Linked DNA regions of Homo sapiens: region 1 is linked to region 2. Evidence: fine-mapped expression QTL. Tissue or cell type: lymphoblastoid cells. Region 2 holds a variant in brackets; the other region holds the start of a gene. All regions are shown on one strand. Distances are from middle to middle.

Region 1 (4,240 bases), 53 kb after region 2:
GTGAACCCAGGAGGCGGAGCTTGCAGTGAGCCGAGACCCTGCCACTGCAGTCCGGCCTGGGCGAAAGAGCGAGACTCTGTCTCAAAAAAATAAATAAATAAACAAATAAATAAATAAAATAAAAAATACCCATCACCTCAATTTTATTTTTTGTGGTTAGATATTTGAAATTTACTTTTTGTTATTTAAATATACAGTACATTATTATTGACTATAGTCATCCTGCTGTGCAATAGATTTCAAAACGCATTTCTCCGGTTTAACTGAATCTTTGCATCTGTGAACAACTTCCCATTTTTCTCCCCAGCAACACAGCCTCTGGTAAGCATCATTATACTCTCTACTTTTATGAATTCAATTTTTAGACCTAAATTTAAATCCAAAAGCTGTAAAACTTCTGTAAAATAACAAAAGGGATATTTAGGTAACTTTGGGTTTGGCAATTACTTTGTAGATACAACAGTAAAGTACATAAAAGACAAATTTCTACCATGAAAGAAGATATTGGTATGAAGTCGTTACAATTAAAAACTTTTGCTCTGGGAAAGGAAATAAGAGAATGGAGAAACAAGCCACAGACGGAGAAAATATTTGCAAAACACCTGTCTGGCATCCAGACCATTAAAAACCACTTACAACTCAACAATAAGAAATCGAACAACCCAATTAGTAAATGGACGAAAGATCTAAAGAGGCTCCCATCAGAGATGGCATATAGAAGGGGAAAAGCTTATGAAAAGATGTTTGCCCTCCCAACGCTTTTCCCTCCCTGCGTCCCTCTCCCTCACACACCCTCCGCTGCAGCGGAGTGGGAGCGGGTCAGGGGCGCTAGGCGGTGACGGTGACGGTGACGTGCTGTCTCTCGGGCGAGGCGTGGGATTTAAGCGCATTATAAGCCGTGGGTCCCGGGGAATCCGAGAGGCTGAGCTTGGAGCCCAGACTGACCCGCCTCTCTCATGGTCCCGGCCCACTGCCCTGCAGAGCCCGCCTTACTCTTCCTCTCCACAGGTCTGCTGTGGCTCCACCAAGCCTGGTAGGCCCACAAGGAGCTGCATCCAGCAGGAGCCGCCGCCCGGGAACAAGCTACCCGCGGGCTCTGGGGACAACCGCCCGTCTGATGAGCTCGGCTGAGCGTGCACGCAATGTCGAAATCAAGGACGCCTGGATGCTTTTCATGGCAGAGTGACAAAAGTTTACCAACAAGAAGAGGAGCAGGGCTGCTGAAAGGTGCGGTGCCGCGGCGCCAGAATGCGGGATCCTGAGCCCTGCATGCGAGTCTTCGCGGGGCCGATCGCTGCGAGCCTCGCTTAGGTCCAGCCGCCTCCAGGGAGGGCAATATCCACGAGACGCGGGGAGTGAGGGCGGTGCTGGCCGCACCCCTGGTCCTGGGGCCGCGGGAGCCGTGCTAGCAGGCCGCCTTCCACTGCCGCCTGCGCCGGGTCGGGTTGCTGCAGCGGTGCCCGCTGCAGGAGCTCCGCGCCTGCTGCTTCTCCGACGTCAGGGCGCCGCCAGGATGACAGGTGCAGGAGGCTGCGGCTGTGGGCAGATGTGGTTTCCAGCCCCAGGTCCCGGCGGCCCCTGGCTTCCCAGCCCGCTGTCCTGTGGGCAAGAAGATGAAGAAAGTCACCCCATCAGCAGGTCAGCTGCCCCGCCTGGCAGCCCAGCCAGACAAGGCAACCGAAGTTCATCCTGTCTGAGTTGACTTTGTGCAGGCAGCGGGCCGGCGCCCAGGATGCTGGGGAGCCCTGCGCGCCGGAGGCCGACAAGCCGTGGGGCCCAGAGGCGCCACAGGGCGAGAAGGCACCCGCCTCCCAGCGCTTTCACCCCCCGGCCCGCCCGACCCGCTAGGTGTAGCAGTGGCTGCGGCCAAGCCAGGCATTCTGCCCGGCGGCGGCTGCACAGGGGCGAAAACTGAGAACCCCTGCTCAACCCCATCCGGAGTGACTGCCAAGTGCCCATGCCAGCGACCCCGATCCCCCTCCGGTGGAGGAATGGGCGGGAGGCACGGCCTGGGGGCCCTCAGGCTGGGCGCGCTGGCGATCCCGAGGCCGACCAGGCCATGCACCTCCAGCCCGCCTGGGCACCCAAGCTGCATCCGCCTTCTGTGTGCAGGCAGCAGCCTCCAGGCAACCCCCGAGCCCGCCAGCACTCCCCACATCTCAGAACCGGGGCCAGATGTCCCTGTGGCTGCGGCTGAGCTAGGTGGTCTGCCCTGCAGCGGGAACCGGCTCTCAGCCCCATTCCCCGTGGCTGCAGAGGGCCACTGGCTAGAGGTCCCGAGCTTCAGCAGACGAGGAGCCGAGCAGGGGCAGGGCCTGGCGGGCTCTCAGGCCAGGTGCACTCGCGATCCAGAGGCCGCCTAGGCCGTGCTCCACCACCTGGGCGCCCAAGCTGCAGGCGCCCTCTACCTGCTGGCGACAGCTGCCTGGCAACTCCCAAGATGGCTGGCGCTCCCAGCCTGGCAGAACCGGGGCTACATGTCGCCCTGGCTGCGGCCAAGCCAGGCGGTCTACCCGGCGGCGGCTGCACCGGGACAGGAACCGACCCCCCAGTCCCATCCCCGGTGGCTGCGGAGGGCCCCTGTCAGCGGCCCCGATCTCTCTTCGGAGGAGGAGCGGGTCGGGAGTCAGGGCCAGGCAGGCCCTCAGGCGGGAAGGGATGCACTCCTGGGATTCCGGGACGTCCCGCGGGAGCCCAGGAGAACCCGCAAGCCAGCGACGCGTGCGCCCGTGCTGCAGGTGCCCCCTGCCGGCCACGAGGGCTTGGGAGCGGCTTCCGGAGTCCCGGCTGGCGCTGAGTTGTAGGCGCGCGCCTAACTGGCATCGCGGGGACTCACTCGGTCTGAGAGTTCGGAGCGCTGAGGTTCAGGCGCGCGCCTAACGGCTTAGCTGGGCTCACTCGGTCTGAGAGGTCGGAGTCTGCGAGTGTCGCTGCTGAAGGCTGTGGTGGACCGGGCTGGATCGCGGATTCTGAGCTACATTGCGGGTTTGGGGGTGGATCTTGGATTTGGGGGTGGATCGCGGGTTGCGGGGGGGATCGCGGGTTGCGGGGGAGATCGCGGATTTGGGGCGGAGTGGGGGTGGAAAGGCCACGAGGAGCCGCCGCGGCTCAGGAGCGGGTGGTGGGCGTCTGAGAAGTCGCCACCATGAGGAAGCTCTTCAGCTTCGGGAGACGCCTGGGCCAGGCGCTCCTGAGCTCCATGGACCAAGAGTATGCGGGTCCGGGTTACGACATTCGGGACTGGGAACTGCGGAAGATCCACAGGGCTGCCATCAAGGGCGACGCCGCGGAGGTGGAGCGCTGCCTGACGCGCAGGTTCCGGGACTTGGACGCCCGCGACAGAAAAGACAGGTAGCTCGGGGACTCAGCCCGCGGTGGGAGGGGGCCGCAGGCCCGGCTTCCCTGCAGCCCGGCAGCCCCTGGGGCGGGGACCTTGGAGGGCGCCGGGCACCCTCGGAGCAGCGGAGCCAAATGGAGCCTCAGCTGCTTTCCGTCGCTGGCAATTCCCCGTCCGTCGCGCTTGGTGGAAAATTTGAGTGATTTAACTCACAAAGTTAGGCATATCCACGTTTAAAACATGGGGCCATATACATGATAGGGAGGTGCCTAATGAGAACTCATTCCCCTGTCAAAAATACCATGAGCCTTTTTCAGTAGGCGAAGAGTTCTCAGATAAAACCCTGTGTCGGTTTTACATCCGAATCCACCTAGGTAGACAGGTTCTTTACTGGAGCTTCTTAGAGGGACACTGGGAAGCGCGAGGTGGGTTCCTTGAATGGGAAGACTCAGTTTTCTCAAAATATGAACTGTTTCCATGTTTATCAGTTTTACATAAACTGAATGAAGATATCAAGGTTTTATCATTTTTGCATGACACTTGCTATCTATCTTACCATTGTGATGACATTTAAAAATGTTTATAATGGAGTGAAAAGACTTGCTCCTCTAGATATCAAAATGTGCTATTAATTCCCACAATTAATTATTTACTAACAGCTGAAAACACAGATAAATAAATGGAACAGAACAGGAAATCCAAAAACACTGAAATATATGTAAGATATATACATAGGGATGGATAATGGTAACGTTTCAGATGAGTAGGAAAAGATGAGTTATTAATAAAATGCCTGCTGTGTGAAGAAAACTAATGAAACTTTATGTCGCAAAAATGGGTTCCTGATGGAATTCAGACTGAAATTTTTACACATGCAAAATGAGAAAAAGTACCAGAAGAAAA
Region 2 (4,240 bases):
GTTTAAACAATTTTACAATTTTTTTTTTTTTTTTTTTTTGAGAGAGAGTCTCGCTCTGTCACCCAGGCTGGAGTGCAATGGAGCGATCTTGGCTCACTGCAAGCTCCCGGGTTCATGCCGTTCTCCTGCCTCAGCGTCCCGAGTAGCTGGGACTACAGGCATCTGCCACCACGACTGGCTAATCTTTTGTATTTTTAGTAGAGACAGGGTTTCACCGTGTTAGCCAGGATGGTCTTGATCTCCTGACCTCGTGATCCACCCTCCTCGGCCTCCCAAAGTGCTGGGATTACAGGCGTGAGCCACTGCGCCCGGCCCCATTTTACTATTAAAATTATTCATGACCATGCATTTTAGAGGGCTCACTTAACAAACTTACTGTTGAAATTGCAGAAGTGGAAAGGTGGGAAAGCAGCACTGAGGAGGAACAGCACATGGAACTGGAAGCAACCATGCAACTTTCTTTAAGCTAATCTGAAAGGGCAGTGCCCAGCTACAAAGTTGGGCATTGTGTTGGGAATTAACTTGTCTTTCTGTACTGAGTTAAGTAAGGAGAAGGGTTGCTGTGCTCTTCCATGTAGAGAGTTTGGTGGTGGGGGAGGATCTGAGTCTTCTAACAACAGCAACACAAGCTCTGACCAGTTCCTAAAGTGGAAGGTGCCCTCAGCCCGGTGGCCAGCATGGGAGGCAGCTGGAATGATGGGGATGCTGTGCTCATCAAACCCTCTGTCATTTGGTGAGTTCAAACCTGACTTCCTACTGCTTCAAGAGCATAAATCAGAAGAGGATTTATAAGGACTTGACATCTAGCTTAGAAGAACAAAGTAGTATAATGAGACCAAAATACAACCATTCAGAGGCTTTTCCTTCTTCCTTCTCACACTGTCACTTTGGCAAAAGAGGCCTCAGTTGTCATGCTTGGTTCGCTATCCTGGGAAAATTCCTTAGAATGTCACTTTCTTATGGCTGCTGCATTCTTAGTATTTTATTCCAAAGTCACCCACATTCTCCAGATTTAGAGGCTTTGGGGCCCAAAAGTGAAAAGGGGCATCTAGTAAACGAACAACATAACATTACTTGCATTTTTTACATTTTCAGGACTTGGTATGTTTTAATTTACATAATGCCTTATACATAGCACTTGAAGCTTGTTTTGCAGAGTAGAATAAAAGATATATAGAACTTTTAACATTTTAATCATTCCCAGTCATGAAGCATCCGATTCAAACATAATCACTAACTCTGAAGACAAGGATTATCCATGGCTGTGTAACAAATTACCCCCAAAACTCTCCGGCTTAAAACACCCATAAACATTTATCACCTCTCAAAGTTTTCTGTGGGGCAAGGATTTATGAGCAGCTTCCCTGGGTGGTTCTGGCTCAGGCTCTCTCATGAGGCTACAGTCAAAAAGTCAGGACTGCCGGGGCCTGATGACTTGAATGGCTAGGGAATCCACTTGCACATTGGCGAGCTCACACAGCCGGCACAATGCTGCTGGTTGCTGGTGTGAGGCCTCAGTTCCTCATCAAGCGTGCATCTCCCCAAGGCTGCTTGAGAGTCTTCATGACATGGTGGCTGCCTTCCCACAGAGTGTCATCCTGGCAGAGACAGAGCCAGGTGGAAGCTGCATCCTTTTGATGGCCTAGTCTCAGAAGTCACATGGCCTCACTTCCACCACCTTTATTCACTAGCTGTGAGTCGCTAAGTTCAGCCCATATTCAAGGGGAGGGAGTTACAGTCCACGTTTTGAAAGGAGGAGCATCAAATAATTTGCAAACATGTTTTGAAACCATCAGTGGTTATATTTTCAGGCCAATGATTTTAAACCATTATAACTTATTTTGAAGTACACTTATACCAAGTAAAATTCACAAATCTTAAGTGTAAAGCTTAGTGACTTTTCACATGAGTAAATGCCTGTGTAACCATCACCTAGGTCAATATATGGAATGTTTGAAACACCTCAGAAAGTTCCACCATGCGAGTCTCTGAATTTGAATGTTTTGTGTACACCGTTATCACCTGCAAATAAAGACAGCTTTAATTCTTCCTTTCTAGACTTTGTAACTTTCATTTATTGTTCTTGACTTACTGTACTATCAAGGTTGAATAGAGCTGGTATGAGTGGGTATCCCTGTCTTGTTCTCAACTTAGGGGGAAATGTGTTCACTATTTCATTGTATTTATCTGTAGAGTTTTTAATAGATAACTTTTATCGGATTGAGAAAGCTTTCTTCTGCTCCTAGTTTGATTGAGCTTTGGATATAGAAAAGTAAATAGAATCACGACTCATGATTTTGCTACTTGGTCATAGCTTTAAGCATTTGCTAGAGTACTGTCTTTAGCTGTGAAGGTTCTTTATCTAATTTACAAAAAAAA[G/AG]CAAATTGTGCTAGGCCTACACATGGAAAAATATTGTCCAGGCAGTCTTCAATCTCCAAATATGTTGATCTTCAAATGTGTATGTTTGTCAGTTCCTTGGGAATTGTGAGACTTTTTCACATGAAACCTTAGTTGTGCTCGCTGCTTCAGTATTTAGGTCAATTCCAAAAGTCTATTTAATTACCTTATGCCCGAAGCATGGCTCTGTGCTATGGTGGCGGAGAGTGGGAGAGGGGTTTTGAAGAGAAATGGAAGGGAGAAGAGAGAGGAAGCCTAGGCACCAGCAGCACCAAATACAGCAGCGTACAGAGAGTACAGTTCTCACAGCCAAAGACGCACGGAGCCACCCCAAAGCCGGGTGTGGCTGACATTTGTGAATTGGCATTCTGTAACTCAGGGCTCTATAAACCTTGCCACATGTGGTGAGAATTTTTAAATATCTCAACAGCCAATTCACATGGCTTCAAAAGCAATAAATTTTAAAACAAGAACTTTTGAATGGCACTGACAAAGTGTCCTCAGATTCATTATCACATTTACTCTTCAGCGCAGCCCTGTGAGGTTCACATCCAGGCCTCACGGAGGAGGACACTGAGGCCGGGAGACTTTCCAGGTCTTGCCGGGGATGGCACAGCTTGGCTTTGGTGCCCAGGACTGAGCCATGACTTAGGGCATGCGCTCTTTTCATTGTATTGTGTTCGCAACGATTGCCTAACAACTTTTTGTACGGTTTTTAAAAATTACTGCAGCAGATATGTCTGTGCTGAATGTAACTTAAGATGTTAGTTTGCTTCACGTAAACTGAAGCGGCTCATTTTCGGTCCCCAGCTTTTCGTCACGGTGCGTTTAGCCATTTGGCTGAACAAATAGAGGGACTGTTTCTTCCTCCTCCTTCTCTCAGCACATTCACCTTTTCAGCACAGAATTTTATGAATTCTGCTCCAGTTGTCCAGGTGTAAGAGAGGGAGAAATCTGGAGAAGGAATACTAATTCTATAACTTGGCAGAGACTATCTGCCATAAGCCTAATAGTCAATGAAAACCACTGAGCGTACACATTTCATTTACATTTCCCATCGCCAAGTGCAAGGCCCTGCCTTGGGAACTTTTAGGGCCATAACTGTGGAGTTTCAGAGAGCAAGTCTCAATTTACTAGTTAGTCCTTAATGTAGATGTTTGGACCACTCTTGTTTTTAAAGTGGTAAAACACACACCAGAACACTGTCGAGCATACACGTTTTGGATGTCAGATTGATTTTCAGGGAGGCAGTGGTCTGCAAAGCTGGCAGAGGAGTGGCCCGGCGCGGTGGCTCACACCTGCAATCCCAGCACTTTGGGAGGCTGTGGTGGGTGGATCACTTGAGGTCAGGAGATGGAGACTATCCTGGCTAACACGGTGAAACCCGGTCTCTATTAAAAATACAAAAAATTAGCCGGGCGTGGTGGCAGACGCCTGTAGTCCCAGCAACTCGGGAGGCTGAAGCAGGAGAACGGCGTGAACCCGGGAGGCGGAGCTTGCAGTGAGCCAAGATTGCGCCACTGCACTCCAGCCTGGGCGACAGAGCGAGGCTCCATCTCAAAAAAAAGAAAAAAAGAAAAAAAGAAAAAAAAAAAAAGCTGGCAGAGGAGCTCCTTTGGATAGAGGACACTTCAACTTTGATGGGGGCGGGGTTCCCCGGCTCTCTCTGGAGTGAAAACCCCGTGCACCACAGGGCACTTCCGTGAGCCGGAGGAGCAGCAGGGCCTGGCGAGCCCATCACAGAGGGAGCCTGCGGTTTCAGAGGCGACCACAGATCCGGCTGAAGAGCTGGTCCGAGAGCAGCTGGCTCTGCTGGGTGTGGCCAGCGTCTCTGCGGGGTACA

Direction of the effects. Positions count from the first base shown, and alleles are read on the strand shown. Sizes are in standard deviations (SD) of each study's normalised expression.
With allele AG in place of G in region 2, the expression in lymphoblastoid cells of the gene that starts at base 2,343 in region 1 is lower (small effect, 0.40 SD a copy in TwinsUK).

Evidence for each region. PIP is the estimated chance that this variant, and not a neighbour inherited with it, causes the effect.
Region 1: it holds the start of FAM201A, and the variant in region 2 is fine-mapped to the expression of FAM201A in lymphoblastoid cells (TwinsUK, PIP 0.95).

The regions. Positions count from the first base shown.
Region 1 is chr9:38,619,191-38,623,430 of GRCh38, reverse strand. FAM201A (family with sequence similarity 201 member A) reads right to left here and starts at 2,343. Exons shown (of 2, transcript NR_027294.1): 1 at 2,066-2,343; 2 at 147-1,599. ANKRD18A (ankyrin repeat domain 18A) reads left to right here and starts at 2,835. Exons shown (of 16, transcript NM_147195.4): 1 at 2,835-3,351. The coding sequence starts at 3,146. RefSeq lists enhancers at 1,208-1,417, 2,070-2,189.
Region 2 is chr9:38,672,547-38,676,786 of GRCh38, reverse strand. No RefSeq gene overlaps it. Among named protein-coding and RNA genes, the nearest start is that of FAM240B, 45 kb to the left of the region's middle. RefSeq lists an enhancer at 3,876-4,240. The variant G/AG (reference allele first, on the strand shown) is at 2,380.